2 linked regions of the Homo sapiens genome follow. The protein of the gene in region 2 purifies or fractionates together with the protein of the main gene of each other region. This does not show direct contact. Each region holds a gene or a part of one and is shown on either strand. Other genes may lie near its edges.

What was found. Proteins that work in one complex are often made in the same cells at the same time.
Region 1: the proteins of OCIAD1 (region 2) and LRBA purify together in Homo sapiens (co-immunoprecipitation; 2 studies listed by BioGRID and IntAct, with this or other methods). This does not show direct contact.

What each region holds. Positions count from the first base shown.
Region 1 is NC_000004.12:151,011,554-151,019,504, reverse strand, and holds the start of LRBA (lipopolysaccharide-responsive and beige-like anchor protein), read left to right. Parts: upstream 1-4,220; 5' UTR 4,221-4,303; intron 4,304-4,643; 5' UTR 4,644-4,862; coding exon 4,863-5,078; intron 5,079-7,951. UniProt on the Homo sapiens protein: Involved in coupling signal transduction and vesicle trafficking to enable polarized secretion and/or membrane deposition of immune effector molecules. Involved in phagophore growth during mitophagy by regulating ATG9A trafficking to mitochondria.
Region 2 is NC_000004.12:48,840,680-48,848,580, reverse strand, and holds part of OCIAD1 (OCIA domain-containing protein 1), read right to left. Parts: intron 5,946-7,901; coding exon 5,892-5,945; intron 183-5,891; coding exon 135-182; intron 1-134. UniProt on the Homo sapiens protein: Maintains stem cell potency. Increases STAT3 phosphorylation and controls ERK phosphorylation. May act as a scaffold, increasing STAT3 recruitment onto endosomes. Involved in integrin-mediated cancer cell adhesion and colony formation in ovarian cancer.

The DNA of each region.
Region 1 (7,951 bases), about 100 Mb from region 2:
GTGCAGTGGCAACATGACAGCTCACTGCAGCCTCGAACTCCTCGGCTCAAGTGATCCTCCCACATCAGCCTCCCCAGTAGCTGGGACTACAGATGTGTTCCACCATGCCTGGCTAATTTTTAAAACTTTTTGTAGACAGGAGGTCTTGCCATGATGGCCAGGCTGGTCTCAAGCAATCCTCCCCTCTTGGCCTCCCAAAGTGCTTGGATTACAGGCATGAGCCACTGTGCCCAGCCAAGATACCCATTCATACCAGGATTTTCCTCCCTGTCACTGCTAATAGCTGTGTAGGCGCAGACAAGGGCTTTCAGGTGAGAAAAATTAAAGCAAGTAACTTTAGAGTTTCGACTCAATCCAAATAATATGAATACCTGTAATGTGTAAAGTATTGTGCTATAAAGGAGCTTAAGATTTGAGGCAGATAGTTCATCTGGAATCATTCCAAGATTCTATGTCGTACACCTAAATAATAATCCACAATGATTGCATTTTATTTATTTTTTGAGATGGAGTTGTGCTCTTGTTGCCCAGGCTGGAGTGGCCAATCTCGGCTCACTGCAACCTCTGCCTCCTGGGTTCAAGCGATTTTCCTGCCTCAGCCTCCTGAGTAGCTGGGATTACAGGCATGCGCCACGTAATTTTTAGTAGAGATTGGTCAAGCTGGTCTTGAACGCCCAATCTCAGGTCATCCACCCGCCTCTGCTTCCCAAAGTGCTGGGATTACAGGCATGAGCCACCGCACCCGGGCCTAGTGATTGCATTTTAACTGGCTTGCCTAGAAGTGAAGAGTTTCGCCTTCTACCTTCCTTATGCTTCTTTCTGCAGTGAACCTCCAATTTTTGCCAACTATTTTGTTTTAACCATGGGCAAAGAGGTTGAAAAATTTTTATAAATAGTTGACAATTTGTGCATATATATATATATATATATATATATATATGTATTTTTTTTTAGATGGAGTTTCTGCTCTTACTGCCCGGGCTGGAGGGCAAAGGTGTGGTCGTGGCTCATTGCAACCTCTGCCTCCCGGGTTCAAGCGATTCTTCTGCCTCAGCCTCCAAGTAGCTGGGATTACAGGCACCCACCACAACGCCTGGCTATTTTTTTGTATTTTTAGTAGAGATGGGGTTTCACCATGTTGGCCAGGCTGGTCTCAAACTCCTGACCTCAGGTGATCTGCCTGCCTCAGCCTCCCAAAGTGCTGTGATTACAGGCAGGAGCCACTGTACCCGGCATTTAGAAATATTTGGTTAATTGTCTGTGTTCATTGTTTCATCAGTAGAACAGCATTAACAGTGAGCTTGCAAATTTATGAGCTACAAACCTTAGCCCTAGATCATTTAGACTGTGATCACTCTGTGTTGGGGGCATTTTCATTATTATCATCTGCTTCTTAATGGAAGACATTTATTCATTTAACAAATACTTAATTAGCACTTATATGACAGATATATTAACACACCATTTGCCCCATCTGAGGAGACAAACTCCGATGAGAGGCCTTTTAGGATTAATGCCTCACTTTAGAAATACGGATGTGTGAAAGGTCAAGTGAAAGTTGTGTCTCTTCTGCAGGCACACCCTACTCCCCCTTATTCCAGAGTTATTCATTAATGATGTGAAACAAACTTGAGGTGTTTAGTTTTTCAGAGATTTCAGAAATGGGAAGCCACTGATGTCGCCTTTTACTTTGGAAATGTGTTGGCAATTCGGATCATCAGAAAGATGTCTGCTTCATCTCTGGAATATCTAAGTCTACTTACAGAAAACAAATCTTTAACAAACATTTGCAACCACATGAGATTTGGTGCAGTTGAATTCATTTTAGTATTTTTAAAACGTGTAACACTTTTCTAAAGAAAATATCCCCTTGCTTGTTCTTCTGCTTCTTTTTTAAAAAAATAGAGACCTTGGTCGGGTACGGTGGCTCACACCTGTAATCTCAGCACTTCGGGAGGCTGAGACGGGCAGATCACCTAAGGTCAGGAGTTTGAGACCAGCCTGGCCAACATGGTGAAACCCCACCTCTACCAAAAATACAAAAATTAGGCGGGCTTGTAATAAAAATAAAAAAAATTAGCGCATGCCTGTAATCCCAGCTACTTGGGAGGCTGAGGCAGGAGAATCGCTGGAGCCCGGGAGGCAGAGGTTAAGGTGAGCCGAGATTGCGCCATTGCACTCCAGCCTGGGCAACAAGAGCGAAACTCCGTTTAAAAAAAAAAAAAAAAAAAGAGCACGGGTCTTGCTGTTGCCTAGGCTAGTCTCAAGTGATCCTCCTGCACTAGCCTCCTAAAGTGTTGGGATGACAGGTGTGAGCTACTACACCCAGCCCTCCCTTGCTTTTTGCGTCTGTTACCTTTTTCTTCCCAAATTTCCATGTGAGAGTTAAAATTGTCTTTTTTTTTTTTTTTTTTTGAGACAGAATCTCGCTCTTCCTCTGTCACCCAGGCTGGAGTGCAGTGGCAATTCTCCTGCCTCAGCCTCCCGAGTAGCTGGGATTACAGGCGCCTACCACCATGCCTGGCTAATTTTTGTATTTTTAGTAGAGACGGGGGTTTCACCATATTGGTCAGGCTGGTCTTGAACTCCTGACCTCAGGCAATCCATCTGCTTGGGCCTCCCAAAGTGCTGGGATTACAGGCGTGAGCCACCGCGCCCGGCTTCTGTCCACTTCTCAAGGCCATCTCAAATAACTTTTTCTTCAGGAAACTATTTCTCAAACCACTATAATTTTTTCCTAAGTTCTCTAGAATTCTTCCTTTGTTTAATCCCACTTTTTGCTTCACTTTCATTTTAGGAGCTAGGCGTATTTTTAAAAAGGCCCTTTGACCTCAAAGGATACACGTGGGTGAAAAACCACCTTCCTCTAAATTTATTTTTCACTCACTAGGAAGAATGGTTTACTGTTAATAGCGGGTGGAAAGAAGGGACACTGAGTATGAGGACCTATCTGTACTACCTAATATAATTTATCTTTTGATCTACTCTGAGAATGACGCGAGCCTAATCTTCACATTGGAAAATCACGAGAGGAAAAAACCCTTCGGAGGTCTACAGGCACAAGGAACCCTGTCTCCACGCTGTTTATAGCAGCTGTCTCAGGAATCCTCTGCCTAGAATGAATGTGGGAGAGGTTTCGTGGCGCGGCAGCTGCAAAGCAAGGAATCTTTCCCATTCCTCGTCGACTCGGTCCCCTCCCCTCCCCTCCCGAATGGCGGCAGCTGCCGAGGTATCCCAGTGGAAATCTCCAAGTCTCCGCCGAGAGCGGCGGGCGGGCAACAGCTGAAAGCAGCCAGGGGTGGGGACTCCTCGCTCCCATTGGGCAGGGACAGCAGCCTCACTGGCTCCAGCGCCGTCACCTCTCTGGCTCGTAGAGGTGCCTCAGGTGTTCTTCTCCAAGTCCAATGAGACACCTAGGCAACGCAGCGCGTGTTCCCTCCGCGCCAAGAGACCCTACGGTAACTTAACAACAGCAGGAGCGCCAAAATCCCCGCCTCAGGACTTGGCAGAAGCACCTCCCGAGGTCCGAGAGTGGGAGAGGGGAAAGTGTAGGCCCTCGGACGGAAGGGTCTCTCCTCGCCGGGCCGGGTACACACCTGGTGCTACCAGAGCAGCGCGCCTAGTGCAGCCGGAAGCCCCAGCCCAGCACTCCGGCTGGCTCGGGGCCCCCTTGGCTGTCCGCGCGTCGTCACCGCGCCCCCGCCGCGCGGCTGCCTCCGCCTTCGCGCCCTCCCGCCCCGCGCACTCGCGCTCGCGCACGCGCACGCCGCGCCCGGCAGCACTCGGCGCTGTCATGGCGGCCGGGAGCAGCTTCAGTGGGCACACGACAGCCGCGCGACCCGTGGCGGGGCGAGCTGTGGCAGTAGCATCCTCACCACTCGCAGCAGCCTCAGCCGCGGCGCCCGTAGCGCCAGCAGCGGCTGCTTTTGCAAAGGCTGAGCGCAGGGGCGGGGCGGGCCAGGAAGCCATGGAGTTCTGTGCAGCCGCGGACTCCCGGGGAGCGGACTAGGGAAACTTGGAGGCTGCGACCAGGTGCACTGACCTCTCTGTCCTCCCTTCTCTCCCTGCGGTGGCCGCTGGGTTTCTCTGGCCGCTCCCCTCCCTTCCTGCCACCACACACACCTCCCCACCCCTTCCCGTCGAATCTCAGGTGCCTGAGAGAGGTGCTTCACTCCTCCCACTGGGCCGAGCATTTAGAATAATCACCGCCCCCTTCCCCCGCCTTTTCCTGCCCTGGATCTCCGCCGCCACCTCGGTCTCGCTGCTCCTGGGCGGGGGGTGAGGACGAGTCCGGAGTATCTGGGTGAGGAAGAACTTTCTACCTCTGTGATAGCTTGTGGGCCCCCCTTCTTTCCTCCGATCCCTCCTTTCCCCGCGACAGTTTCTCTTTCTAGTGCACCTGTGAGGAGAGGTTACCCTGCGCCTAGAACCTGCACGAGAGTGGGGGAGGAGTGAGCCTGTTCGGGGGCCTCTTGGACCTGCCTTCACCCAGAACCCAGCTTTTTGAGCCCGGGAGAAGCGGGTGGCTAGTAGTGGGGTGCCTTTAGTAACTTACTTGACCGACAATAACTATTTCCCTCTTGTCCCCTCAAAACCCTAAAACAAAACCTAGCCTATTTAACATATATTTAATCTTCCAATAGGGTTTGGCGTTGTTGTCAGCCTCGGGGAGAGAGATTGGACAAATATTCTCCAAGAGGAGGAGGGCGACGCCAAGGACTTTCCACATCAACTGCTTTGGGGTATCTCCACAAGTTGGAAGAGGGACCCTTTCGTTTTGCATTGCGTGTGTTGTGCTCATTACCAGTGCAGCGACTGCCGTCCCAGGGTGACTCTGAGTTGTCCTTTATCGTGAGCTAGCAATGGCTAGCGAAGACAATCGTGTCCCTTCCCCGCCACCAACAGGTGATGACGGGGGAGGTGGAGGGAGAGAAGAAACCCCTACTGAAGGGGGTGCATTGTCTCTGAAACCAGGGCTCCCCATCAGGGGCATCAGAATGAAATTTGCCGTGTTGACCGGTTTGGTTGAAGTTGGAGAAGTATCCAATAGGGATATTGTAGAAACTGTCTTTAACCTGGTAAGTCCATGAATATTTTATAAGCATATACTCTTTTCAGTGGGTTGGGGAACAAGATCTTAAAGCTGGAGCCATGTGGTTTACTCACACTGATGGTGACTTTTTTCGTGTATAGGGACACAAAATTCTACTCACCTAAATGAAACAATTTCATCTGTTTTTTAGATTGAAGGGAATTGTGCAAACTTAGATGATCCAGGTTTTGTGAAAGTGAACACATCACTTTTGTGCTAAGGAAATAATTGTTGCTATGGAAGTATTGGGGGGAGGTTCTAGCGGAGGAGTTATCTCTAATTTTTTTTTTCTTGGCTTGTATGCCTAAGTCTGCGTTTCCCTTTACCACTTTAAATAATTTCTTGTGACCTTTTTTTGGACTTGAGAATTAATGTCTTTGATTCTGTCGAAGTTATGTTTTGCTACAATAAGTTTAAAAATTTGTTTGTAGTGCTGATGCAAGATTAATTTGCTGCAAAGTTAGTATTTTTAATTTTGACTAGTTTTATTTTTAGACATAACTAACAAAAGTTAAATTGGTGATGAATTTAGGATTGCATTTAAAGTAATCTTGTGAAAATTGAATGGCAATATGAAAAAAGGAATTGAAGCAGATACAGTATAATTTTTATGTGTTTTATAAATTCATGTCTAGCAGGAAAGCATAGTTAGTCATTGGAAGTTGCTGATTATACTAAGATGAGCTATGAATGCTTTTTTTCGGGTGGGGGTGGGAGGGGGATGAGGCCTCTCTATGTTGCCCAGGCTGTTCTCAAACTCCTAAGTTCAAGCTATCCTCCTGCTTCAGTCTTATGAGTAGTTGTGGCTATAGGCATGCATCACTGTATAGGGCTTAAATTGTTTTTAAATTGAGGTATAATTCATATATTATACAATTCTACCTTTAATTAATTCATTAACTTATTTATTTAGAGATGAGGTCTCACTCTGTTGCCTAGGCTAGTTTTGAATTCCTGGGTTCAGGCGATTCTCCCCTCTTGTCTCCTAAGTAGCTGGAACTACTGGCATGCGCCATTGTGCCTGGCTTGGTTATCATTTATAATGGAGACTTTTTAGATTTCTTTATTCCAGCCTCTCTTGCCCATCAACTTAAAGAATCAAAAGGAAATCTGGCCCTAAAATACTTCCCCCTTTTCTACCTACCCACCTGTGTTAGAGGATAACAGGACCAAATATAAACATGCAGTTAATTGTAATAACTGTTTAGCACCTTTCCCTTTGCCTCTTTTCAAGGTTAGGCTTGTTTTATTCTGGGGCAGTTAATTATTTCTTTCACTAGACCTTCTCTAATGGTCTGGTCACCTGCAGTACAACTTCTAGAATAAGAAAGTAGCTAGATGGAATTCTGGCCGGGCGTGGTGACTCACGCCTGTAATCCCAGCACCTCAGGAAGCCGAGGCGGGCACATCACTTGAGGTTAGGAGTTTGAGACTGGCCTAGTCAACATGGTGAAACCCCATCTCTACTAAAAATACAAAAAAATTAGCTGGATGCGCTTGCTTGTACCCAGGAGGTGGAGGTTGCTGTGAGCCGAGATCGTGCCAATGCACTCCAGCCTGGGTGGCAGAGTGAGAGACTGTTTCAAAAAAAAAAAAAAAAAAAAGAAATTCACTTACTTTTGAAGAATGAAAGCTTTGAACAATTGGATATTTCTATGTCAGTTTATTGGGAGTTTATGTATAAACACCTATAGACACACACATGCATATTTTAAAAAACTGCATATTATGGAAATGTTCAAATATATGCAAAAATAGAATAGTATAATGAACTCTGGTATCCGTTGTGCAGCTTCAACAGTTGTCAACATTTTGGGGATCTTGTGTGTGCGCATGTGTGTGGGGCTTTCATATGTAAGTCTGAGGAAGATAAATGGTAAATTGATTGCTTTACCTCAAAATAGACTTGAAACATTTCCTTTCTGATTTTTTGTTCTTTTTTAAAATGTCATATGCCTTCAGTGAGAAACAGAAATTTGTGGTAGTAATATAATCCATAATTACTTATTTGTGTGTGAAGACACAACATCTTTTGGCAGAAGGAGGATTTGAACTCCTGTTCTTTAGAATGTGCTGTGTTGGAGTGGATGACCAAACGTGAGTCATTTGCATTTTTATCATTAAAGAAAATCCAAATTCTATAGCAGCATTTGCTTATACGCTTCCTAGAACTGTAGACCTGGTATAGATTTTAAGGTCATTGGTTAAGTCCTTCAAAGCTGCGTATTTGCAGGATAGTAGGTGCCTGGATAGAAGGAGAGAGAAGAGTCTGTTCAGTTAGTTACCCTCCTCTTCAATATCATTCGCTTGTCAGGTAGGGCAGGAAAAGTTGCTGAGAATATTAGGTAGCAGTTTCTCCCCTTCCATTGTCCCTTAAAATACTTTTCATGCTCTTTCATGGATTATCTGGGGTTTTGGCCACTCTAGAAAATCTTTGGAAGCAGCTGCGCACAGTGGCTCATGCTTGTAATCCCAGAGCTTTGGGAGGTTCACTTGAGGCCAAGAGTTTGAGACCAGCCTGGGCACTATAGTGAGACCCTGTCTCTACAAAAAAAAAAATTAAATAAAAAATTAGCTGGGCATGGTGGCATATACCTGTGGTCCCAGCTACTTGGGAGGATGAGGTGGGAGGATCCCTTGAGCCCAGGAGTTCGAGGCTACAGTGAGCTACAATCATGCAGAGCAACACCCTGAAAAAAAAAATTAGAACGAAAGTATTGGGATTCTGTAAATTAGTCCATCTCAATGTTGTTAGTACTGCTACACGTAAATATTTCCTAATTGATAGTTAGTCTTTTTTTTTTTTTTTTTTTTTGAGATAGAGTCTCAGTCTGTTGCCCAGGCTGGAGTGCAGTGGTG
Region 2 (7,901 bases):
TGCTTTAACAAACTGATTTATCAGAGCATGTAACCACATAACTAATATGAGTAAGACATGATAAAACATTTGATAAAAATAATTTTATTTAAGTTTTAAAAAGCTATGAAAACTACAATGTTGTTCATACTTACGTATAAGTTTAGGGATGGAACCATATTTGGGATGACTTGAAAGTATTCCTAAAGAAAAGAGTTAAGTATTTCTGAGTAACACTGTTACAGAAAGAAAAATCAGTAAAGGCTATCTTTAAATATAATCTTACAACATTAGCTCCTTCCATGATCCTACAGAACCCTAGACTGTTTAATAGGGAAAACCAAATGAATTCAGTATCAAGAGAAATATGACGAAAATCCAAAAGACTCTACAAAGTATTAGAACAGGTAAATTTAGAAAGATCACTTGATGTAAGGTCAATAGACCAAATATATATGTGTGTGTGTATGAAAAACTGTTTATACCAACAACAAACAAAAAAACAAACATTTTTTAGAAGACAGAATTAATTATAGCACCAAAAAAAAAAACGCTCAAAACCCAGGAACAAATCTAATGAAAGATATGAAAGATCTCTACACTGACAAGTTATAAAACTTACTGAGAATTGAAAGACCCAATATTCTAAAGATGGCAATTCTCCATAACTTCACCTATAAATACAATGCAATCCCAATTAAAATCAAAGTTTTACAAAAATTGAAAAGCTTATTCTAAGAGTCATGTGGAACACAAAGGGCCAAGGCAACACTGAAGAATCGTATTATAGAACTGACTACCACCAGATAGCAAAATCTACATGATAAAGCTGTAGTAATTAAGACAGTCTGGTATTAAGTACAAGAATAGGCAAACTGACCAAAACTAAGAGTCCAGAAACAGATCCACACCTGCACACTTGATTTATGACAAAGACAACACTGCAGCATAGTCCTTTCAAATATAGTGCTGGGTCAATTAATATCCATTAACAGGGGAAAATGTACCTTGATCCTACATCGAACAATAATCCAGATGGCTTAAAAATTTAAATATGAAAGATTTTTTTAAAAAATTTTACAGAAGAAAGCATGAGACCATCTTTGTGTCCTTAGAGTAGACGAAGATCTTAAAGAGTCAACAAAAAGCACCTATTAGAAAGAAGAAACCTGATAAATTGGACTCTATTAACACTGAAAACTACAGTTAAACAGAGTGGGGAAAAAATAATCACCATATCTATATCTGACAAAAGACTCAATTCCAAAGTATACAGAGAAGTCTCACAAAACCAATAGGAAAAAAGACAATACAATGGAAAAATGGTTAACAGACTTAAACAGATACTTCACAGAAAAAGATATGCTGAAATGAAGTATAAACAAATGGAAAGGTCTTCAACTTCATTGGTTACAGGGAAATACAAATTCAAGCCACAATGCAATCAATATTAGTGTTTATTTACCACAATGGCTAAAACATAAAAGACATAAAAATAGCTAGTGTTGGTGAGAATGTAGGAGTATACATTGGTCTAAATAGTTTGGTAATATCTACTAAAGCTAAATAAATATATACAAAATCTATGACCCAGCAAAATGTCTATCAAAAAGGCACCATATTCTTGGCAAAACTAATTGTAACAGTGAAAATTGAAAACTACCAATTATCAATGCACAGTTCAGATAGATAAACTGGTGTATTCACACAGAGGAAAACTATAGGGCAACTACATGCAACAATGTGGTTAAGTGCAATGATGTGCTGGTAAACCAGCACTCCCTATAAAAAGCTCTAATTTTAATGTTTGTCAGTTTCCATGGTGTAAAGCTACCAATTCTTTTTTTTTTTTTTTTGAGACGAGTCTCGCTCTGTCCCCAGGCTGGAGTGCAGTGGCGCCATCTCAGCTCACTGCAACCTTCGCCTCCTGGGTTCAAGCAATTCTCCTGCCTCAGCCTCCCAAGTAGCTGGGACTACAGGTGCACACCACCATGCCCAGTTAATTTTTTGTATTTTTAGTAGAGACAGGGTTTCACCATATTGGCCAGGATGGTCTCAATCACCTGACCTCATGATCCGCCTGCCTCAGCCTCCCAAAGTGCTGGGATTACCGGCATGAGCCACCGTACCCGGCCAACTACCAACACTTTAAAAACCAGCTTGCCAAAGTTCCCGAAAATTTAACAACCAATTCTCAGGAGCCAGTACAAACCAGTTCCAGCATGCTACTGGATGAATCTCACCATGTTGAAAGAACTTACATAAAAGAATATTTCAGTGTATGATTTCATGTAATTAAAGTACAAAAACAGACAACTAATCTGTGCCTTTAGCCTCAGTTCCTTCATTTATAAGAACTGGGATGACAATAGAAAAAGGAAGATGGTAAGAACATCTCTATTTTTACATTAAAAAGTTGTTCCTTCATACTGTCACCAACTAGTTATAGACCACTTACAACATAAAGGTACTACATACTGGATATTAACAGGAAACAGGACACACTCTTTACTCTCATGGAATTTACAGTCTAGAGAGAGAGTTAAGACAAAGATAATAGTGTCATGGTTGCTATTCATCCCCTCAAATATTTGAGTACTATGTGCACTATGTATGTCCTCTGTCAGGTGCTAGAAATAGCTTATTTTCCTAAGGAGAAGTAGCAAGAATGGAAACAAACAGATTTGTTGAAGGTTAACGCAATACTCTTTGTGACATATGGTTGCATTAATTATGCTGGCAGTACAGATGGAGGTAGATAGTTAATAAAGACATTTAAGAGCTAAAAGACATTAATTGGACAAGGCAGATAAGGGATAGATGTGAAGGATAATGTCCCAGTTTCCTGGATAGTACTAACACCACTCAGTCATGAAGGGAAAGGAGGAATTGGTTTTGTGGAAAATGGTTGAGTTCTGTTTGAGGAGCCTATAGAAGGGCCATACATATTATATATTATATCCAAAATATAGTAACACCAACATTTCCCAAACAACTAGACAAAAAAACCCATACAAGAATGTAAGCACCAAGAGTTAATGAATTTTTGTTGTTTAGTGCTATATAACAATGTATAGTACATATCAGACACTCAAAAAACATGAAACAGAGGAATCGCCTGAGGTAGGAGAAAAATCTTAGGAATATGCCATCATGGAAGCCAAGAGAATAGACTATTTCAAGAAAAACTGGTTAAAGTTATGTAACGTTGGTCAAGAACAAAAACTGTCCATTATATTTAAGCAACAAACAGGTTGTTTTTGAAAAGTTTGTTTTTGAACTTTTGAAAAGTTCCAATAAATGGTAGAACATATGGATAGTCTCACACTGACTGCAATGGGTTAAACGAAGTAAAAAGTGAAGGGCTCATTCATGAAGTCTGCCTCTGGCTTCAAATATGAGGCAGTTGGGAGTAGCTGGAAAAACAAATGAGGGAGGATTTTTTTTTCTTTTTAATGTTCTCAAGTTAGAGGAGACCTGAGCATGTTTAAATGGTTTTGGCAGATCAGGAAGAAACAGAAGGAACATCTAAGACCACGTGGAGTATGACACACTGTGGATGAAAGGGGATACAGGCAGCCCTCCATATGTACATGTTCTGCAACCAACTGCGGATAGAAAATATTTAGGAAAAAAAAAACTGCATCTATACTAAACATGTACAGACTTGTTTCTTGTCATTATTCCCTAAACAATACAGTATAACAACTATTTACATAGTGTTTACATAGTCTTAGGTATTATAAGTAATCTAGAGATGATTTACAGTATACAGGCAGATATGCACGTAAACTTTACTAGGCCGTTTTATATCAGAGACTTAAGCTTTTGTGGATTTTGGTATCCTCTGGAGGGTCCTGGAACCAATCCACACAGACACAAAAGGACCACTGTACAAAATGTCAGGGATTTTGATTAAATGCAAAATGTCTTGGTGGATTCCAAATTCTTTTCTTAAAGTCTCTCTCAATTTTTACCTTTTTTTTGAGACAGAGTCTCGCTCTGTTGCCCAGGCTAGAGTGCAGTGGCGCCATCTCAGCTCACTGCAGCCTCCGCCACCTGGGTTCAAGCGATTCTCCTGCCTCAGTCTCCTGAGTAGCTGGGACTACAGGCACGCACGACCACGCCCGGCTAATTTTTTTGTATTTTTAGTAGAGATGGGGTTTTATCATGTTGGCCAGGACGGTCTCGATTTCCTAACCTTGTGATGCACCCGACTCGGCCTCCCAATATCACTTCTACCGTACCCTCAAGTAGCCCAAAGTCTTCAACTGCACCTAAACCCAAAATCTCTAAAAAACTTCCTCCTCTTCATAACCTAATCCAAATTATAATTTCTCCTGGCTCTACTTCAGCTATTTAATGGATTTTTCACTCCTCCCTGCATGATTTTGTCTCTTCAGTTCAGTCCTGATTGCCTCTCCCAATAGTTATGCCTATTTGTCTTCATCATCAGGTCCCTCCTTCCTGGTATGTTCTTTCTTCTCATTTAATCTAAATCCTGCCCATCCTTCAAAACCCACTTCTTTCAAGAAACTTTCCTTGATTACAACAGCCCTACAAAGATCTTTCTTCTTTGAACACCTACAACTCTTAGAGTCTCTACTATACAATTTAGTAGCTTATTAAGTATGTAATTAAATTTTCTATTTGCTTCAACATATGTTCACATCCATTTGTTTCCTCCAGTGAACTACTAGCAGCTATTAAATTCTTTTGTGTAACCTTCTGCATACCTAGCTCCAATCATTATTAAATGACACACTGGATTAAAATAGATAAAAGAAGCAGAACAATAATAAACACTGTAATTTCATCCCTGTGCCAGTTTTTCCTACAAAGAATGTAATTCAAGTGGGGTTTTTTTTGTTTTGTTGTTGTTGTTGTTGTTGTTTCACAATACAGAACCAATCTCAGTCTATAAAACAGCTTAGTCTTAAGGACATATAAGTGCATACATCTTGACTCGCTTCTATGTTTAAGATTTTTGTCATGGTACTGTATTGTAATGAAGTTCTTCAGAAGTTCCTTAAATAAATTTTTACCCCAAAAATCCTCTCATTTGCCTCCAAAACTACTTTTATCAACTAATTGTGTCAAAACTAAGTACCATACATCATATCCTAATGTGAAAAGGCTAAATCTTCCAATCATTAAGTCACATTTTTGAAGGAGCCAGTTAATTAAAACAATAGGCCTCCAGGCCATCCTAAGGTCACCATCCTTTTCTGGGACACCTTCCCATTACCAGATAGATAGTTCATGAAGTAAAGGAATTAAGCAACTCTACTGCTTACTCCACTACATTTTAAATGCAGGACTCAAGACATTTAATACTCAATCTAAACTCAATTCCACTACTGTACTATTTGAGCCAATAGACTTTAGGACAAGAAAGTCTCCTCGGTGGCTCGTTAAAAATAGATCACCTGCCAGACCCCTGAGATTCTGATTTTTTAAATAATGCTAACTCACCGCCACTCATCCGCCCCAGGTGATCAGACAAAGCTGGTTTAGAGAGCTACTGATCTTTAAATCATTATATAAGAATCACTTCGAATTTGTTAAAACACAGACTCCTGGTCCCCATGAATGTGCATTCTAACAAGCTCCTAGGCAATAATGTTGCTATTGGCCCACCTAGACCAGGTTTGCCCTGCTAATACTGGTGTTTAGTTACCTTCTTGCTCTTGCAGATTGTTAATGATGCTATTAGTGCAGGAGAAATTCTCAAGTCATGATATTTGAGCCAGTGGGTCCACAGAGATAAAACGTTTAAATTCATCAATGAATTTCTACATAGTGTTTAATATGATACATTGTTATCTTTACTTTTTCTAAAGACCTGGAAAATACCACAAAACAAACATGGTATCCAAAATGCTAAATAAATTCAAATTTTAAATATTTACCTTTACTAATTAATCCTTGAGTAATCAACATACTTGTTGCAGCCAAAGGCACAGCTATAGGAAGAAAAAGACCTTGTTAACATCAACAAAAGTAAAAGATTTTGTCTAAAGTTCATTAGATAAATGAATAGCAGTAAAACCATCTAGGAATTATATTGCATAACTAAGACCTTTAAAAAAGACTGTTCCATTTTTAAAAGCTGTACTGTATACATAGTGGAAAAATTAAAGGAGCATTTTAAATTTAAGAAAACATCACAAAATATTAAACAATATAATTCATGAACCATCTAGGCTTAGGTTCCAAATAGCCAGCTGTTCATCAACAGCATCAACTAAGACAACACAGTAAAAGTGACTCAAAATTACTTCTGAAGTAAGAGAAGGGGAAAAAGTTAATGAAGGAGAGGTAAGAAACAAGTTACAAGTAAGAACCACTACTGAGTAATGACTAAATTCTGTGCATCATGCTAAGCGCCTTATGTGCATTATCTCATTTATTATACTTTTTATCATATTTCTATAAGGTAGATAATGTTATTACCACCCTTTTAAAGATAAGGAAACTGAAGCTTAGAGATGTTAAGTAATTTGCTCAAGGCCAAACAACTAGTTGAATGGTTGGTTACAGATTCTAATAAAATCTGTCTGATACCAGATCTCAAGCTTTTAAGCTCTAGTATACCATCTAAACCAAAATACAAAACATATTTGACCGTAATCATACGGTGGCTGGGGCAAAAATTAAAAAGCACATATTTTAAACACTTATGTTCTTTCTTCTAAACTAGTGAACTCCTTAAACTATATGAAAATATTACATCTATATATATATATGCCTAAAACCGAGAGTGAAAAATCCAAAACTCATAATCTCAAAGGGGGCTATAACTTAAAAACAGCTATGAATCACTGTTCTTTACACCAGCACTGTCTAACAGAATTTTTTATGATAATGGAAGTTGGTCTTTGAGTGACCAACCCTGTGATCAATTTGGTCTTGGTACTTGACTGGTAAACAGTTCCCCCCATTGATATGCGTAATTGGCTCACTGTGCCCAAACTGTTTGTACAAATACAGTTCATGCCAAACATCTGCTTTCATTCTAGGAGTCTGGAATTTTGGTACCTGTTAGGCAGAGGGTGAATAAGTGACCAGCCCCCAATAAAAACTGTGGGCACTGAGTCTCTAATGAGTTCCCCGGGTAGATACAACTTCACACATTGTTATGACTAGCTGTTGGAGAAATTTACACTCCCTGGGAAGAGAACTCTTGGGACCTGGTTTCCGCCGGACTTCACCCCATGCTCCCTTTCCTTTTATGATTTTGCTTTATATCCTTTCACTGCAAGTTATTTTAAAGTTAAATTGCTACATGTGACTACTGGCTGCCACACTGGACAGTGCTGTTCCAGACCTGAGGTTGGCAAACACGTTCTATGAAGAGCCAGATGGTAAATATTTTGGGTTTTGTGGGCCAATCTCTGTCCCAGTTACTCAATTGCCGTTTTAAAGCAAAAGCACCGAAAGACAATCCAAAAACACATGAACGTAGCTGTGTTCCAACAAAACTTTATTTTTAGATGCAAACATATGAATTTCATGTAATTTCACACGTAATGAAATATTCTTTTCCTTTGATTTCTTAACCATTTTATCTTATTTTATGTTTTTAGACAAAGTCTCACTCTATCACCAAGGCTGGAATGCAGTGGTACAATCTCATCTCACTGCAGCCTCAACCTGCCGGCTCAGATGATCCTCCTGCTTCAGCCTCCCAAGTGGTTGGGACTACAGGCATGCACCGCCATGCCTGGCTAATTTTTTGTCTTTTTTCTTTTTTTTTTTTTTTTTTGTAGAGATGAGGTTTCGCCAAGTTGCCCAGGCTGGTCTCGATCTCCTTGGTTCAAGTAATCAGCCCACCTCAGCCTCCCAAAGTGCTGGGATTACAGGCGTGAGCCACTGCACCCAGCCTCTTAACCATTTAAAAATGTAAAAACAATTCTTAG